Linked DNA regions of Homo sapiens. The protein of the gene in region 2 purifies or fractionates together with the protein of the main gene of each other region. This does not show direct contact. Each region holds a gene or a part of one and is shown on either strand. Other genes may lie near its edges.

Evidence for each region.
Region 1: the proteins of LPAR1 (region 2) and NDUFAF1 purify together in Homo sapiens (affinity purification with mass spectrometry; 4 studies listed by BioGRID and IntAct, with this or other methods). This does not show direct contact.
Region 3: the proteins of LPAR1 (region 2) and MRS2 purify together in Homo sapiens (affinity purification with mass spectrometry; 3 studies listed by BioGRID and IntAct, with this or other methods). This does not show direct contact.
Region 4: the proteins of LPAR1 (region 2) and RMND1 purify together in Homo sapiens (affinity purification with mass spectrometry; 3 studies listed by BioGRID and IntAct, with this or other methods). This does not show direct contact.

Annotation. Positions count from the first base shown.
Region 1 is NC_000015.10:41,391,756-41,396,664, forward strand, and holds part of NDUFAF1 (complex I intermediate-associated protein 30, mitochondrial precursor), read right to left. Parts: coding exon 4,732-4,909; intron 3,290-4,731; coding exon 3,104-3,289; intron 2,604-3,103; exon of another isoform or gene 2,350-2,603; intron 1-2,349. UniProt on the Homo sapiens protein: As part of the MCIA complex, involved in the assembly of the mitochondrial complex I.
Region 2 is NC_000009.12:110,876,947-110,881,855, forward strand, and holds part of LPAR1 (lysophosphatidic acid receptor 1), read right to left. Parts: intron 1-4,909.
Region 3 is NC_000006.12:24,405,268-24,410,176, reverse strand, and holds part of MRS2 (magnesium transporter MRS2 homolog, mitochondrial isoform b precursor), read right to left. Parts: intron 1,770-4,909; coding exon 1,733-1,769; intron 717-1,732; coding exon 604-716; intron 1-603. UniProt on the Homo sapiens protein: Magnesium transporter that mediates the influx of magnesium into the mitochondrial matrix and regulates magnesium metabolism. Also permeable to calcium, sodium and potassium ions.
Region 4 is NC_000006.12:151,420,386-151,425,294, forward strand, and holds part of RMND1 (required for meiotic nuclear division protein 1 homolog), read right to left. Parts: intron 3,247-4,909; coding exon 3,140-3,246; intron 2,221-3,139; coding exon 2,156-2,220; intron 937-2,155; coding exon 860-936; intron 1-859. UniProt on the Homo sapiens protein: Required for mitochondrial translation, possibly by coordinating the assembly or maintenance of the mitochondrial ribosome.

The DNA.
Region 1 (4,909 bases), on a different chromosome or scaffold from region 2:
GATTAGAGGGTCCAACTTTAGTTACAGGAATCAGGAAAGGCCTCTCTGAGGCAACTTTTGAGCCGAGAGGTGAATGACAGGAAAGAGAAAGCAGGTGAAGACATGGGGGCAGAGCATTACAGCAGAGCAACACTAAGTGCAAAGCTCTGAGATGGAAATGAGGTTGTTAAATCTGACAGAAAAGGGGCTGGTGTGGAGGAAGGAGGTAGGAGGAGAGATGGAAGATGAAGACAGGAGGAGAGATGGAAGATGAAGACAGGGGTCCGATATTGTAGGCCCATAGGCCATGTGCAGGAGTTTGGACTTTATTCTTTTTTTTTTTTTTTTTTTTTCTTGAGATGGAGTCTTACTCTGTCACCCAGGGTGGAGTACAGTGGCGCGATCTTGGCTCACTGCAACTTCCACTTCTCAGGTTCAAGCGATTCTCCTGCCTCAGCCTCCTGAGGAGCTGGGACTACAGGCGTGTGCCACCACCTGCTGCTAATTTTTTGTATTTTTAGTAGACACAAGATTTCACCATGTAGACCAGGCTGGTCTCAAACTCCTGACCTCAAGTGATCTGCCCATCTCAGCCTCCCAAAGTGCTGGGATTAAAAGCATGAGCCACCTAGCCCAGCCTGGACTTTATTCGAATTGTAATGGGAAACCACTGAAGGGTCCTGATATGGTTTGGCTGTCTCCCCACCCAAAATCTCATCTTGAATTGTAGTAATCCCCATGTGTCAAGGGAGGGACCAGGTGAAGTTAACTGAACCATGGGTGTGGTTTCCCCCATACTGTTCTAGTGACAGTGAGTTCTCACAAGATCTGATGGTTTTATAAGGAGATTACCCCTTCATTCGGCTCTCATTCTCTTTCCTGCCACCATGTGAAGGAGGATGTGTTTACTTCCCCTTCTGCCATGATTTTATAAGTTACCTAAGGCCTCCCCAGCCCTGCAGAACTGTGAGTCAATTAAACCTCTTTCCTTTATTAATTACCTAGTCTCAGGTATTTCTTCATAGCAGCAGCACGAGAACAGACTAATACAGCTTACATGCTTAGGAGGTACATTTACATGCTTACAAGCATGTAAATGATGTCATCTGAACTATGCTTCAGAAAGATAACTCTGGCTGCTGTGGAGCCAGGATTTTAGTGGGGCAAGAAGACAAACAGGGAAATCAATAATGAAGCTGCTGCAATAATCCAAACACCTGGACCAGGGTGGGAGTAGAAGAGATGGCTAGAAATGGTCAGCTGCTGAGTGTATTTTGGAAGCAGAGGTGACAGGACTCGCTAATAGACTGGATGTGGGGCAAAGGAGAAGAATTCAGGATGACCCTCAAGTATATGACATGAGCAAAATGGGGACTTTCTTGTTGAGTTTTTTTTTTTTTTTTTTTTTGAGACGGAGTCTTGCTCTGTTGCCCAGGCTGGAGTGCAGTGGCACGGTCTCAGCTTACTGCAACCTCCACCTCCCAAGTTCAAGCAATCCTCCTGCCTCAGCCCCCCTAGTAGCTGGGATTACAGGCACACACCACCATGCCCGGCTAATTTTTTTTTTTTTTTTTTTTTTTTTGAGACGAAGTCTCCCGCCCAGCCTGGAGTGCAGTGGCACGATCTGCAAGCTCTGCCTCCCGGGTTCACGCCATTCTCCTGCCTCAGCCTCCTGAGTAGCTGGGACTACAGGCACCTGCCACCAAGCCCGGCTAATTTTTTTTGTATTTTTTTAGTAGAGACGGGGTTTCACTGTGTTAGCCAGAATGGTCTCCATCATCTCCTGACCTCGTGATCCACCCGCCTCAGCCTCCCAAAGTGCTGGGATTACAGGCGTAAGCCACCGCGGCCGGCCTTTTTTTTTTTGAGATGGAGTCTCACTCTGTCGCCAGGCTGGAGAGCAGTGGCCCATCTCGGCTCACTGCCACCTCTGCCTCCCAGGTTCAAGCGATTCTCCTGCCTCAGCCTTCTGAGTAGCTGGGACGACGCCACCACACCCAACTAATTTTTTTATTTTTAGTAGAGACAGAGTTTCACCATGTTGGCCAGGATGGTCTCGATCTCTTGACCTCGTGATCTGCCCACCTCGGCCTCCCAAAGTGCTGGGATTACAGGCATGAGCCACCGCGCCTGGCCTCTAATTCTTGTATTTTTAGTAGAGATGGGGTTTTGCCATGTTAGCCAGGCTGGTCTCAAACTCCTGATCTCAGGTGATTTACCCACCTTGGCCTCCCAAAGTGCTGGGATTACAGACATGAGCCACCACGCCTGGCCTAGGACACTACTTTTTTTTTTTTTTTTTTTTTTTTTTGAGACAAAGTTTGGCTCTTGTTGCCCAGGCTGGAGTGCAATGACACGATCTCGGCTCACCGAAACCTCCGCCTCCTGGGTTCAAGCAATTATCCTGCCTTAGCCTCCCGAGTAGCTGGGATTACAGGCATGCGCCACCACGCCCAGCTAATTTTGTATTTTTTTTAGTAGAGACAACAGGGTTTCTCCATGTTGGTCAGGCTGGTGTCGAACTCCCAACCTCAAGTGATCCGTCCGCCTTGGCCTCCCAAAGTGCTGGGATTACAGGTGTGAGCCACCACGCAGGCCTAGGACACCAACTTTAGCAGAGTTGCCTGGAAGACATGAAATGGCAGAAACTTCTAAAAAACAAACAAACCCCATCTATTTGGACACAGAGCAGAGATGTGCCTGTGACTTAGCATGGACCTGGCCACATCCATATCAAAAATATTCACTAGTTAGTATGTTAACATTTATATTAATGAAACAAAATTCATTTATGTCTCTTAACCTTTCTTCTACCCACCCACCCCCACCTTCCAAGAAAGATTAGTAACAAAAAAGAAACTACAATGTAACAATCATCTCCAAGACTTTTTTTTTTTTTTTTTTTTTTTTTTGAGACAGAGTCTCATCTCACTCTGTTGCCCAGGCTGGAGTACAATGGCACGATCAGAGACTAGGTTTCACCATGTTGGCCAACCTGGTCTCGAACTCCTGACCTCAGGTGATCCACCCACCTCGGCCTCCCAAATTGCTGGGATTATAGGCGTGAGCCACCTCACCCAGCCAAGACCTCATTTTTATAAACAATGAAGATTTATGCTGTTACCTTGACCTCCTGCCAGTAGGGTCCCCCGCGGGTGAACATGAAGTAACTATACATCTGATTCGTCCTCTGGAAGAAATCTGTGTCCTCCTTGATATTCACCATCCAAGGCCGACCATCCCCACGTACACGGAGATACAGAGTATTGAACTGGGACCAATCGTAAGACATCTTCCTCTCAAAAGCACCCTAAGATATTGAAAGTAAAGTTCATTGTACCTCATTCTCCATTATTAGCAAAATGTGAGTCATCACCAAGTCAGCATCATCAACAGGATGCACTAACCATTTTTCTGACTTTCTGCCCCATAAGAAGGCACATAAACCCAGTGATTATTATTTTAGCACAAAATACTGACATAGTTATATGTTTCTAAGGTAATGTTCAACACACAACTGGCCCAGGACAGTGTTTACATGGGGTAGGCACTCACCTGTGTTCAATGAATGGAAATGAATGTATTTCCTTTACCTGGTCGTATGGAGCAATGACTTTTTCTTTTCTTTTCTTTTCTTTTCTTTTTTTTTTTTTGAGACGGAGTCTTGCTCTGTCACCCAGGCTGGAGTGCAGTGGTGCAATCTCAGCTCACTGCAAGCTCTGCCTCCTGGGTTCACACCATTCTCCTGCCTCAGCCTCCCGAATAGCTGGTACTATAGGCGCCCAAAACCACACCCGGCTAATTTTTTTGTATTTTTAGTAGAGACGGGGTTTCACCGTGTTAGCCAGGATGGTCTCGATCTCCTGACCTGGTGATCCGCCCACCTTGGCCACCCAAAGTGTGGGGATTACAGGCATGAGCCACTGCGCCCGGCCTTTTTTTTTTTTTTTTTTTTTTGAGACAAAGTTTCGCTCTTGTTGCCCAGACTGGAGTGCAATGGCACGATCTCAGCTCACTGCAACCTCTGCCTCCAGAGTTCAAGCAATTCTCCTGCCTCAGCCTCCCAAGTACCTGGAATTACAGGCATGCACCACCATGTCCAGCACTCTGGGAGGCCAAGGGTGGGGTGGATCACCTGAGGTCAGGAGTTCAAGACCAGCCTGGCCAACATGGTGAAACCCTGTCTCTACTAAAAATACAAAAATTAGCTGGGCGTGGTGGTGTGCACCAGTAGTCCCAGCTACTCAGGAGGCTGAGGCAGGAGAATCGCTTGAACCTGGAGGGCGGAAGTTGCAGTGAGCCGAGATCACGCCACTGCACTCTAGCCTGGGCGACAGAGCAAGACTCCGTTTCAAAAAAAAAAAAAGAAAGCCACAGGCTAACCCTACATCCACTCTACAAAACCCCTGGTCATTACAGAGGTTGTGGTCTTTTTTAGAGGAGATGAAAATCTCTCCAAAAATCTTTCAAATGTCTAACCTCTCAGGATTCCTGAAACATAACAATGCTCGTTCCTGGCCCAAAGCAATGCGCAGAAACAAGTTAACTCCTCCTCCTCAGAAACCACTTCCCCCTTGTGCTTCCACTTCACACTTGTGCCAATAGTTACTTATCCCCAGACACAGGTGAGGTGCCAAATATAACATGCCAGGTGTTTTCATTTACAGAAACAAAAGCTATCTTCTATAGTTTATGCTACAATGAAGTTCACCCCTGTTTACTAGAAAACGATGGCTCCTGGGCCTCACCTACCCTTGGAATCCTGGATATCATTGCACAGTACCCACTTCGGGTAGACTCCCCGTCCTGAGGCGCCTCAGAGCTCAGAGTTCCATATAGCAGTGCACTTTGGTTATTCTTGCCCATTTTCAAAAACACTTCACTTCTGCCTCCAATCGTCTTATCAGAAGTCACTGTCCACTTATCCAAA
Region 2 (4,909 bases):
CAGCGGTGGGCACCACTGTGTCCCATTACACCTCACCTAATGGGCCCCATATGTGTAATCAGGCAGGCTACATATGTGTAATCAGGCAGAGCGGAAGTAGGAGCAACCCCAGAAGGGCATTTGCATCTTCAGATTTAAATGGCGCTGGCTTTGGTGGATGCAGGCTTGGACTGGGGTCATGGATTTGGTCCAGCCTCAAGGAATTAGTTTCACAAAATGTAAACAAATGAGATTTAGTCTCCAAACAGCCCACTTTTGAATCTGAGCTTTCTTTTGTGAAACTTTTCAGCAGGGAAATGAAAATAAAGGAGAAAAGTACCCCCATAAAGCTCTTTGTTCTACAACACAAATGTGTATTGGTTTTAAACTGCTGTTCACTTTGAAGATTGGCCAAGGTACTTCATTTTCTAATAAATACAACACCTTAGACTTTCCTTGGAGAGAAAAAAATATTTCAAATATCAGGAGATAATAGCCAAGGAGCAATTTGAACTTCAATAAAAATGTTAATAAAGCATTCATTCCAAGTCCTTGAATTTCCTTGCTTGAAAATCACTCAGAAAGCTAAACATAAAGGAAAATCAAAGGAATGCCTCTTGGGTTTCAGAAATAATGCATTATTCATTGAGAAGCCAGGAAGGGAATTATTCTCAGGATGGAAAATGCTTGGATGGAAAATGCATGGTCCCATTATGCCATTTACTTGGAAACTAAAAACACACAGTCCCTTCATGAATGGAACAGCATTCTTTCAAGTTTCCTTTCCCCTTCCTTTTATCAAAGCTCTAATTGAGTTCAAATTCAGAACTTGATTAGACACAAGGAACATGCATCTCAATAGCTAGATTTTAAATAAAATGATCTTTTTCTCCTTCTGGGCAACAGAAGGGAATATCTTTATTCTCTCATACTTAAGCTGCTTGACTTTGCTCAAAAGTGAGAGAATTCAAACACTGTCATTTGTTGTTTATAATTTCTTCCCATGTTAAAATTTAAAAGGTGTAAGATCTTTCCAGAAAGAGCCCATAAGCCTTACTTTTAGACCAAGAAATGCAAGGAACCCTGCTAGACTGAAGGCAGGAAGTGGGAAACACCACAGCCTGACACAGGAGCTTCTATGTATGGATGCTTCATTGAGGAACCTGGATTCCTCTCCTTTATCTTCTTCACTGAAAGGAACTGGTTTTTGTACTAGGATTAAGCCCAACCACACAGTCCCAACACTCTGTGTTTGGATCTTCAAGACTCAATCCAATAATTTCAGTGACTCACAGTACAGGCCTCCGAAATCAACATCTAAAACCAATCATATGGAAATTCTGCGCCCCCCTCCCCCTCCTTTCTATTTCACAGAGGCCTCAAGGATCAAACTGACCAAAAGATGAGGATGCACTACAGAAGACGAAAATGGGGGCTGGAAAATTGTAAGGGATGAGGTTCCTAACCCACAATGAATGGATATTCTGAAATAAATTTTGCTCAAATTAAGGATTTCCCCTTGAGCTTCTGAAAACAATAATAAACCACACCTAAACCCCTTTAATAGTAAGGAGCTAACCATAATTCAATCAGGTTACAGGACTTGAGATGTGCATTGTGGACCCCATCAACATGTAATCTACAGAGAGTTCAGCGTACACCTGAAAGGTTGATAAGAGTTAAAACACCTCCATCTCAGCACCTCTGAAGTGGAGAAATAATAGCTCCCTGCCTCCTCCACATGGCACAGTGAGGATCAAACTGAGATACAACTTGTAAAAGCCCTCTATAAACTGTGCATCTACCTGACCACCATGACTTACGTGAGTGGCACGCTGGCGTTGCAGAGCCCTAGGATAGATTCTCCAAGGGCAGAATGTGAAAATGTGTTTTGGACAAGAAAGAGCTGGCATGTCAAAAGGCTCTGAGACAATACTATCCTGATTATAAAGAGATTCCTAGGACTTGCAGTTGGGTATGAAGAAGATAACAAGAGGGAATAGAGAGACAACATAGGGAAGCAAATCATTTTGGAGGTTCTCATGGGTCAATGCCATCACCTACCAAGATGGGGAATGAAATATAGTACTCAGTAGTCATAGTGCTTTGAGTAGTTTGTATATTTCCAGCACATTTCTGATAGAAGAATCCCACAAACCCAGGCACAACACCGATGAATGGTATGCAACAGTATGAAAGTAAGAGGAAGGGCCCGGTGCGGGAGCTCACGCCTGTAATCCTAGCACTTTGGGAGGCCGAGGTGGGTGGATCACCTGAGGTCAGGAGTTTGAGACCAGCCTGGCCAACAACGGTGAAACCGCATCTCTACTAAAAATACAAAAATTAGCCAGGCGTGGTGGCGCACACCTGTGGTCCCAGCTACTTGGGAGGCTGAGGCAGGAGAATCACTTGAACCCAGGAGGCAGAGGTTGCAGTGAGCCAAGCTCACACCACCACACTCCAGCCTGAGTGACAGAGCAAGACTCCATCTCAAAAAAAAAAAAAAAAAAAAAAAAGGATGAAGAAGTGTGGTTATTTATTGTAACATCAGAAACAGAAGTAGCAGAAGATAAGATGTCCAAGGTCACAAAGGTCTTGTATATCTGGCTATTTGAAATTTGTCCAGTCCAGCATACATTCTCAACCCTAGCCACACATTACAATAGTCTGCAGAGCTTCTTTAAAAAATAAAGACCTTCACCCACACCTCCCACTATGGGATTGTAATCTCATTGGCCTTACTGGTCAGATTTTCATTTAAGACACAACATTGGTGACAGAGTGGAAGAAGAAAATAAAGTAAAGGCAAAACTATTTCCAAATTCCAGAAGAGAGATAATGAAAGCCAGAATCAGGACAGCAGCACTGGGAAGAGATATAGAAGGACTGGAGAAGTATTTAGGAGACGGACTCCATGAGATGGATGAGACAGAGAAGTCTAGAATGACTTCTAAATTTTCACTTTGGTTGAAGGAGGAAACACAGGAGAAAATGTTTACTGGTGTTTTGTAAGGGAGGTAAGGAGAAGAAGACAGCTGATGAGCTGGGTTCAGTATGTGTTTAGTTTGAGGTACCTGCAAGACATCTAATGGAAATGCCTTAATTACATCTAAATAGGCTCATGGCAATTTGTGTCATGGGAAACTGTCTCACAGCACGCTGAACAAAAGTGGTTATATTGTCCCCTGATTTGCCAATATTACAAGTAACATGGGGTGGAGGATATTCAAAACAGATCCGTGGGTTGTTCTTCCTTGAACAAGCTTTATTCCTCCCTGATGCATCTGTCAAAGCAATCTGTGAGAACCCCAATGCCCACAAAGATGGAGGGAGAGGTGCTGGAATGCAGACGCAAAAGGCAGGGAGGAATGAGGCTGTTTTGGAACAACAGGTCACAGCTGCAGATCGAGATCATATTACCACACCTTCCCTCAAATCTATCCAACCTCATCAGCTGAATAATGCTTACCATCTGGTCTCACAATTACAGTCTTTTTTTCTAGAATGACTTTTTCCTAACTAGTTGAACTTTGCTTACATATGGAATGCAAGAACCAAAGTTAAAGAGGAAAACAGTCCTTGCCAGAGAAGACCTCTAGAGACAGTGTCCAAGATTTTTGATGAAAAACACAGAAAGCGTTTCTAGTCTGGCTGGCAAAGTTGTGTTTTTACAAAAGAACCAGACATCCCATAGATCCAAAACAAGTCAAGGTAAATCAATTCTACAACAGCACTGTGCCCAAGGTGGCCTCACTCTTCTTGTTTTTCAAATGAGGATCCCAGAAACAGTCCCATCTCAGAGACCTGCGGTGGGAATCAAGGGAGAAAATAAATGAGTGCCTAAGTTGCTTTTTCTGTTTTCCCTAAATTGTTTATTCCCTCAGGTCAGGCAGCGTGGTATCCCAGAATCTAATCAAATTTTAGTTCATCTCTGTAGTTACGTTGTGATTTCTGCTATTAAGGTACACACATACTACATAGTTAGCTAGGAAATCCTTCAATGCTATGTATCTTAACAGAGCCTATGTCAGAAAAAGTGGCCACAGATGCAAAGCTTATTCTTCCCCAGTCTTGCAGCTAAGGGTTCATTATAATGGGGGTGTATGTGGATGGCTTTTTGAGATTAACGCTTTTTCTAAAAGAATAACCCAGATTAATTAAAAAATCTTTTTTCCTGACTATTGAAACTATATAATTTACCTGAGGTATCTCCACAGTATTATTGTTCTATATTATTTCCACCCTGATACCAATTTTACTCCATCTAGTTTGGTGTTCAACACTGCCATTCCTTCCTGGTCACAGCACATGTTGCATACATTTAAAGTTTCATGATTTCATTTATTGTATGATGTGCTCTAGTATTTTCATTACTCACTCTTGAGAGCAACATTTATCTTTTAGAGAAGGATAATAACACCATACAGAGCTCTAAAGCAGAGCAGAATACTCATTATGTTCTCTTTTTAACATTCCTGGGTGACAGTTTTAGCTTCATTAGACTCTCCTGATCACCACAATGCTACTTTCCTGTGCCCAAGAGAATGCCAAAGCTGCCTTCCCTCTGGTGTACTCTCCTTAACATTAAGTAGTGTGTATTGCGCACGTACAAGTTCCATACCCTACAACAGACTCTAACTCTCATCCTGCAACTGTACCTTGGAAAGTCCACATTGAAATGACTTGAATGCTAGTGCCATTCTTACAGACCATTCAGGTGCTGAAAAGCCAGGTAAAACCACTTCTCCACTGCTACCATCCTAGCCAAGTGAGCAATACCTTTTATCTGCCAATTGCAACAGGCTCTTAACCAATTCCTCTTCCTCCACACTGCTTCCCTAAAGTCCAGCTTGTACAAAACAAGCATAAATCAATTTGCACTAAGTCACTCTCCTGCTTAAAACCCTCCAAAGTCTTCCTACTTGAAATC
Region 3 (4,909 bases), on a different chromosome or scaffold from region 2:
AGAAACCCCATGTCTACTAAAAATACAAAATTAGCTGGGTTTGGTGGCTTATGCCTGTAATCCCAGCTACTCAGAAGGCTGAGGCAGGAGAATTGCTTGAACCTGGGAGGTGGAGGTTGCAGTGAGCCAAGATCGTGCCAGCCTGGGCAACAAGAGCAAAACTCCATCTCAAAAAAAAAATTAAGGCTATAAAATTTAATGTCTATTCCTGTGCTATTTAGAAAGCCAGAATACATTTTTGGTAGCTCAGGTTATACTATAATTACATGTAACTGTACACAATTGGATATATATCTATTATAAATCAGGATTGTCTTATAGTTTCCAGAACTAGAGAGTAAATCCCAACAGTGAGAATGAACACCACAGTCAGAGCTTTTCCAACTTAAAACACAGCAGTGTTATGCCTATTGAACATGTGCATATAATCCATATAAAATGAGTTCTACTCATAATAGCATATTAAGCTATAAAACATCCTATGTTTCAGGTAGCTATTTCTATTCCAAAATTACTTTTAACCTAGATACTAATCAAGATAGTTAGAAGGTAACTTTTATAAGATTGTATTGGAGAAACATAGATGAAAATAAAATATTTTACCTCCATTCTCATGATAATCCTATTGTTTCTGACTGTGATACTCATTACATGCTGAAATCTCAAATCTCTGGCTTGAAGACCTAACTCTTGGTATAATTCAGTTTTCTTCCTTTCTATAAAAGAAATAAACAGAGAGGGCTAAACCAAATACATTAAATGGCTTAGATTTTTCCATCAGAGCAGTCCTCCCACCACCATCAAGACAATTTTTGGTTACTACCAGAAACAAAAACTAAAATTAAGTCTTTTAATATCCATTTTTACCTAGAAAACATACTCGGGCTAAATAGAGTCAAACTAATGATTTTCTTATCTATACCTCATAACTTTCTCACTACTTAGAAGACCCTTGAGACTAATACAGAAACCACAACTATGCATCATTAGAACCTATAAATGTCCAGCTCTAGAGACAGGTTATCTCTCTTAAATATAAACTGTACACAACTATATTTTCTATTTTTACTACAACATCATCTTCAGTATTTTATATATGTGAACAGATAAGCTTGATTTTCTTTGTTCTTAGACTAATACAAAAATGAGAAAAGCTGAATTTATTACCTGAGACTGATTCATTCTCAAGGGAGATGTGAAACTCACATCTGAAGTCACACTGTAAAGTAATGCCTAGTCTCACTTTTTAAAGTAGCTGTCCACAGAGAGCCATCAGCAGCAGAGTTCCATGTGGCTGCCATGCAGTGACATGGCCCTGTTCATCTTTTGTCACCCACTGCAATGTCAGTGGTATTATGTGACTCTGCCTTAAACATGCTTCAGGAGAATGAATGAGGGCAGTGAAAGGGACGCCAACAAGAGAGACAAAAGAGAAAAAGAGTGTGTCTCTGGGCTCCAGTTCTACACCAGCCTCTGCTCTCCCAAATATTCCTTCAATAGCCTGTTAGAGCAAAAAGTGGCTCCTGCTAGAAGAAAACAATTCTGGGAGAATACACACAGTCTGAGTATTGCCAGCTCCAATTAAGACTGATGGACAAATGCTGAAGAAAGATCTCTTTCAACACACCTGTATATGCAAAGAATATTTTACTCAAAATACTACAATTTCTTGATTTCTATCAGATTCACTCATTAAATGTTTAAAAAATGATTTAGAATGCTAATCACTCACCAAAAGAAGTAACGTTTCCCTGTTTGTCAAATTTTGTCTGAAAATAGAGAATAAAACAAATTATGATTTTCTTTCAAATTAGAATGCTACTTATGGTATTGCTAATTTAGTTAAGAATTTATGGTATTGTAAGTAATATCCCCAAAATGTTGAAATGCAAATATAAACCATTACTGACCTTCTTTAGATTAAATCCAGTTATGAGTTAAGGGTTTTTTTAAAATCCTTTTTTCCTTTGATAGGAAAAATCAGACCTGGGTTTAACTTTCTATCTTGGTTCCTCTAGAAAGTTGATAAAGGAGTATCAGTTGTGTTGTTACTAGGTAACAATCCTTATGGTAAAAATGACCATTGACTGGTAGACTGCACTGGACTGGGAAGACGAACAAATTACAGTTATCAGGTGAAAAGCAATAGCTCTCTTTGCCCTTTCCTGATTGTGGTGGCTCTTGTGGCCATGTTCCCAGCCAGAATCCTGGACACTGTGCCCCTGCGATGGTTACAAGGGATACTGTCACTACGGGGCATGGGGATTCGAGCCAAGATGAATCTCACATCCACCTTTGAGAATCTTATCTCCTTGTCACTGAGCGATCACTCAGAGGACCAGAGAAGCCCCTGGATGGCTGCAAAGACTTCTTTTGAAGAGGAAACACCTAACACTACCCTGTTGTTTCTCCTGTCCCTTATCCTTCTGAGTAGACTGGGACCAAGTATGGCCCGCCTTGTGAATCTAAATGTCTACATGAGGCCAAAGTCTCTTTGGTGGGTGTTGCAGAATCAATAAAGATTTACAGAACCCCTTCTGATAGTTTGAAGAGAGGATTTGATACAGAAAATGCACCTATTTCCTGCAAAGTAGGGGACTATCTTTCAGTGATGTTTATCCACAGTCAAGTTTGAAGCTGTGAAACATTTAATGAATCACTATGTGCTGAGCTGTACTACTTACTACGACAGACACATTTCAGAAAGACACTCCAACATACAGGTTTAAGTACAATATAGGTCTTGGGTTACTACCATGGAAATATACATGCTGTGTTAATCACACAATAAAAACTCACAATATATATATTTTATCTTGCTTCTCATCAGCAAAAATAAAATTAATATGAATATATAAGTTCCATAGAACATTAAAGGAAAATTTATATCAAAGAAAGCTTTATATTTGTGTAATAGTCTAGCTTTCAGCCTTATATTTCACAAATACATAAACCCACTGCAGAAAATTTGAAAATAAATATACGTAACATAAAACTATATTAATCACCTGAAATGACAAATTTTAGAGAAAACCATGTCAATATTTCACTGAATATCCTTCCAAACATTTTCCTAATAAAACATACTTATACATACTGCTTTGCAGTCTCCCTCCTTCCAAATTAGCAACATATGCTGAATATTTTTGCATCTCAATATTTATATGTACCCTTTTTTTCTTTAATGGAACTTAAAAAAATTTTTTAAATCATACAAATTATAAAGAAAAAAATATTTACTTTGTAACCAGCTCACTTTCTAAACTATTTCAAACAGCACAAATTAAATTTTTCTTTCTCAGATTCCATAGCTTTATGAATTTCTTAAGTGTTCTTTGCAATTATTTCACCTGCAAAGAACTAACTTTCAGTATTTCACGTTTGACTTTGTATTCTTTTTTTGAGACAGAGTCTTGCTCTGTTGCCCAGGCTGGAGTGCAGTGGTGCAATCTTGGCTCACTGCAACCTCCACCTCCCAGGTTCAAGCGATTCTCCTGCCTCAGCCTCCTGAGTAGCTGGGACTACAGGCGTGCACCACCACGCCTGGCTAATTTTTTTGTTTTTTAGTAGAGACGGGGTTTCACCATGTTGGTCAGGCTGGTCTAAAACTCCTGACCTCAAATGATATGCCCACCTCAGCCTCCCAAAGTGTTGGGATTACAGGCGTGAGCCACCGTGCCTGGCCCTGATTTTGTATTCTTAACTAAATTGGCCAACTCTTCCAGAACAATGAATAACAGTGGTAACTTTTAAACGCAATTCTGGGGGTTATTTAATTTTATATAGTTTATAAAGAAAAGCTCTTATGTTAACAAGCCTAAATAATCCTAATGAAATATATTTGAGGCTTACTATATGTGAGGCACTAGTTTAAGGGCTTTCTATATATGAGTTAATTTAATCCTCATAACAATTCTATATGGTAGGTTATGCTCAGTTTTCAGATGAGAAAACTAAGGCACAAAGATGTTATTGTAACTTGTCCAAGGCCACCTAGTCAATAAGAGGCAGAGTGAGATTGGAATTTAGGAAGTCTGGCTCAGAATAGGCACACCTTTTTTTTTTTTTTTTTGAGATGGAGTCTCACTCTGTCTGCCAGGCTGGAGTGCAGTGGCATGATCCAGGCTCACTGCAAGCTCCGCCTCCTGGGTTCATGCCATTCTCCTGCCTCAGCCTCCCAAGTAGCTGGGACTACAGGCGCCCACCACCAGGCCTGGCTAATTTTTTGTATTTTTAGTAGAGATGGGGTTTCACTGTGTTAGCCAGGATGGTCTCAATCTCCTGACCTCATGATCTGCCCACCTCGGCCTCCCAAAGTGTTGGAATTACAGGCGTGAGCCACCACGCCCGGCCGGCACACCTTTTTATCAAGACTTTTTTTTTTTTTGGAAAAAAAAAAAAAGCCTACAAAGAAGTTGCAAGAATATTACAACCAATTCCCATAGAGCTTTCACCTAGAGTCACCTTTGTTAACATTTTGCCCCAACAGCCTTCTTTCTCTAAAAATACGTGTGATACATTATCTTATTCATTCATTTCCCCCCTCATCCCCACCCCCGAACCATTTCAGAGAAAAGTTAGAGATCATGACCTTTCAAAGCATGCATTTTTAAATACTACTCTCTGCTGCCTTCAAAATGCTTCTGCCTGCGTATTATCTTGCAGAACATAGGTTCAAGCCTCTTTATGGCTCTGAATTGTGATTGACCTGTTCTAGTATTAAAAGGGGAGCTGCAGTCATTAGCAAAGGTTCAAGATCATTGTTAAGCAAATCTAGCAGGCACTTAGGTCACTGGCCAGGCACAACAGCCACGACATGTAGCTATGATGATTATAAAGCTCAAAATAAGTAGTATCTTGGCCAACAGTCCAACGAGTTAACTTATGTATGGGAAGCACTTTCTGTACG
Region 4 (4,909 bases), on a different chromosome or scaffold from region 2:
GGAAAAACAAGTCTTAGGTGAACATTTGCAGTGAGCTCTGGTAACTCATTCCACATGCTAGAAGGGATAAACTGGACAATGCTGCCTGTGAGAAAAACACCAACATCCGGGATGTTTCATTCCGTAAATCCTGGGACAACTACAAGAATAATAAAAGCTGAAAACCTTTCCAGATACTTATTTAAAATGATTCATCAGTTTTTAGACATAGTTATTCCCATTTTAACATCTCGAGGCATCTTAAAATTAATGGTGTCTGACAGGTGGCACTTGAGACTTACTTGTCTTTGCCTTAAATAATTTATTTTCTTATGCTTTCCTTTTCATATATGCCCAAGAGGGAATGTGATATAATTTATATCCAGCTAAGATTAAAAGATATTTCAGTAAGTGTAAAATTTTAATCCTCTGATAAAAAAAGTATTGTCATAGTTTAACTGGCAGCAGTTTTTCTCTCCAGTGGCATCTTGGTGTCTCAGATTCAAAGAAACTTTTCTGTAGCAATTAAGCCTATTTAGCATTATGATGCAGTGATATATTTTTACAGAGAATTCCCATTAACCAAATTCAGGAATATGTCTTTCTACCTTCAAAGAACACCTACTGTGCTCCTTAATGTGGGTTTAATGTAGATGAATCGTGATCTCTTTTGCACATGCGTGATTTCTTTCAGTACAGTCTTAACACAGCCCAACTACTTCTAATGGGTAAGAGTTCTCCCTGCTTATAATCAATGAAATGAAAACAGCTACAGTTCCCATAAACGTGTAAATGTTTGCTCTTCACCACAGAACTATGGGAATGTTTTCTTGAGATTGTTAAATATATGAAATATTTTATTTAGAGAGAAAACTTTTACCTTAGAGCAAAGAGTTCACCGATTTTCTGCATAACTTCTTCATGAGATAGTTTCACTTTCTTCCCAGCTTTTAAAGCCTAGTTGAGAGGGAATCGGAAAAACCAAAAAACCATGTATCTCTCTTTCTAATAAGCATTAGGTCAACAGGGCAAAATCTGAAGTGGCATAATTTGGATCCTATGTAAATATTTTTTAGGATGGCTGTCTCCCAGATTAATGTCTTAACTCACCTTGAAATTTCATAATTTTATTAGGTAGAAATTGTATATTCTCTTTTTTCATTTCCCTTCTCATCAGCATTTTCAATGATATATACATTCCTAATCTCTTAGTAGAAAAGCAGGGCCTCCTTTCCGAAGTATAATTAGATTACTCTTTCACAATAAAGACACAGTTAATTACAATATGATGATTTTTAATGTATACTGAAATTTCAATATAACTTTATATGTATTTTTCATACCACTATTTTTCTCATAATTTAGCAAAACACTTTCTTAAATCAGGAAAAGTGGTCATAATTTCCATTCTCAGAGAGAAACATTTCACTTTTTTCTTTAATTCAGTTACATTAAAAATACTGCAACTGACGGGCATGGTGGCTCGTGGCCTGTAATGCTAGAACTTTGGGAGGCCGAGGCAGGAGGATCGCTTGAGCCCAGGAGTTCAAGACCAGCCTGGGCAACATGGCCAGACCCCATTTCAATTATATTAATATTAAAAAAAAAATACTGCACCAACAGAGGAAACAATTTGAAGTTTTAAAAAGTAAAAAGTAATCAATATGAAGTTTCTTAATTTGTCATTTTATATGTAACTGGGAGTTCTTAAGTTTACTGTAGTTTTCTTATTGTTTGTAATAATGTTGTTGTACTCCTAAACAATCGGCCCTCTATAAGTTCTGCAACTGCAGATTCAACCAACTGCAAATTGACAGTATTTTGAGAAAAAAGAATGGTTGCATCTGTACCGAACATGTACAAACTGTTTTTTCTTGTTATTATTTCCTAAATAATACAGTATAACAACTATTTACATAGTATTTACATTATATTAGGTATTTTAGGTAATCTAGAGATGGTTGAAAGTATACATGAGGATATGCATAGGTTATATGCAAATATATACCATTTTATATCAGGGATTTGGACACTGGTAGATTCTGGTATCCAGTGGGGTCTTGGAACAAATCTCCCATGGATACTGATGGATAGCTATATATTGTTATATTGGGAAATTCATATTTTTTACATATAAAAATCAATCCTTGAATAAGCATAAAATTGATATAATTACCTCAGGAATTGACTGAATAGATTCAATAAATTTATCCAGTGATGCTTCCCAAATTGCCAGTTTTACTGGGAAAAAAATTAATAATGGAACATTTCTTTATCATCATATTCACATGTATATAAAATACATAATTGCACAGCATCTTCACTACTATTTCAGTAATAGTTTAAGAAAAAGTACTAAAACCTTGAAAATATAATTTAAGAATAGTTAATTATCATAAAGGACAGAATTAAAGTGGATAGAGGAAACTGAATCGCTTTCCATGCCCTATTGGAAGACCAAAGCTACATTTAGTAGAACTCTTGATTTTCTAGTATTACATCTTGGAAACTGAGGAGGGTAGGGTACACCTTGATACCATGGGTAGCTCTGCAGATAGGGCGCGACTAAGACTTTCCTGGCCTCCCCTTCACTCCTCAGGACTAAGAGTAAACCTCAGAAATCTCCGAAGCCCCTCAGAGTGGGATGGACAGGACGCTGCAGCAGCCACCTAAGGTAGACTGCTGGCAAAAGAAATTCTTAAAGAACTTGTATAGTTTTATTCGGGATGTGGATCTTTCAGAACAAACTTATAGCCACTGTGACTCTGGGTCCCATTCCTATGGAACACTAGAGTATGTTTTTCTACACTGGGACCTGTGCCCAGTCACACAAGGCTGGGCTTCTCTGTCTGGATTAGAGACTATCTAAGAATAACAATCGCATAGAGAGAAGAGAAAAAAACAAAGGCTAATATAATCATCATCTAAAAAATACTTTTGGAGAGGTTAAGCTTTATTAATACAATTAATAAGGAATGAGTAACTTCAGCACAGTACTATCTTTTATACTAGATATTTTTTCTGATGGAGGGAAAAAAAGGAAAAGGAATGCTAAGGCTTTGTTGAGTATTCTGAAAATATACCAAAATCGTGACTATTTAAACTTCCCTCAGTGAAATGACAACTGTAGTACCCTATCCCATAAGCAGTAGTAACTTACCAGAAAGGCATAGAGCATTGGAGAAAGCAAACTTCTCTAGAATGGCATCATCTAAATCCAGCTCTGAATTTAACTTGATTTCCCCCCTGTGAAGTTTTGACTGTCCCCTGTGAAAAGCAAAAAGATAATACCTTCTAAATCTTAAAAAGCACTTTAACTTTTCCTTTGAAAAAGACACCATATCATCTTTCTGGAGGTCATTTTGACAATTTGTATCAAGAGTGTTACAAATGTTCTCATATCCTTTGGTCCAGGTAATTCCCTTTCTAGGAGTTTATCCTAAGGAAATAATCTAAGATGCAAAGAAAAATTTGTATACAAGAAAACTTTTTTTTTTTTTTTTGAGACAGTCTCACTCTGCCGCCCAGGCTAGAGTGCAGTGGTGCGATCTCAGCTCACTGCAACCTCAGTCTCCTAGGTTCAAGCGATTCTCCTGCCTCAGCCTCCCTAGTAGCTGGGATTACAGGCATGCGTAACCACACCCAGCTAATTTTTTTTGTATTTTTAATAGAGATAGAGTTTCACCATGTTGGCCAGGCTGGTCTTGAATTCCTGACCTCAAATGATCCACCCACCTCGGCCTCCCAAAGTGGTGCGACTACAGGTGCGAGCCACCTTGCCCAGCTGAAAACTTTTAAAAAAATGGTCAGTGTTGGCTGGGCACGGTGGCTCACGCCTGTAACCCCAGCACTCCGGGAGGCCGAGGCAGGTGGATCACGAGGTCAGGAGATTGAGACCATCCTGGCTAACATGGTGAAACCCCGTCTCTACTCAAAACACAAAATAAAATTAGCCGGGTGTGGTGGCGGGCGCCTGTAGTCCCAGCTACTCGGGAGGCTGAGGCAGGAGAATGGAGTGAACCCGGGAGGCGGAGCTTGCAGTAAGCCGAAATCACGCCACTGCACTCCAGCCTGGGAGACTGAGCAAGACTCTGTCTCCAAAAAAAAAAAAAAGGTCAGTGTTTAAGAGTAAAAAATTAGGAAATAAACCAAATGTTCAGTAGGGGTTGGCTCAGTAATAGTCACTCCACACAAGAAAAACTTAAAAGTGTGTTTTGGAAGGATAGTTAATAAAAAGGAGAACGTTCACAGTAAATTTCTATGTGAAAAAATGCTGCATATAAAACTATATATGGAGTGTAATCTAAAATCACACTGACATGATGGGGTTGGGGAGGGAGGCAAGGAAGTTGTGAAAAATGAGTATGTGACTGTGGAGAATCCTAGACAGGGGACAGGGGAAGAGCGGAATGTGTGAATATAAACATCACAAGCAAATGGAAAAAAGACAGGGTAAACCTTCACAAAAGATGTCAGACAAGAAGTGACGGCCAAAGGGAGGGGGACAAGGGGCCTGATGGAGGGCGGCATCTGCTATGACAGCCTCAGATGGAGGAAGGAAAGCAAAGACAGCAGTCACAAGAGGTCTTTTTTTTTGAGACGGAGTCTTGCTCTGTCACCCAGACTGGAGTGTAGTGGCGTGATCTTCGCTCACTGCAACCTCCGCCTCCTGGGTTCCAGCGATTCTCCTGCCTCAGCCTCCTGAGTAGCTGGGATTACAGGAGTGCACCACCACATCCAGCTAATTTTTATATTTGTAGTACAGACAGGGCTTCACCATGTTGGCCAGGCTGGTCTTGAACTCCTGACCTCAAGTGATCTGCCCGCCTTGGCCTCTCAAAGTGTTGGGATTACAGGCATGAGCCACTGTGCTTGGTCACAAGATGCTTTATGAGTAAACTGGGCCCATGCCACAGAGCTGAGCAGATCC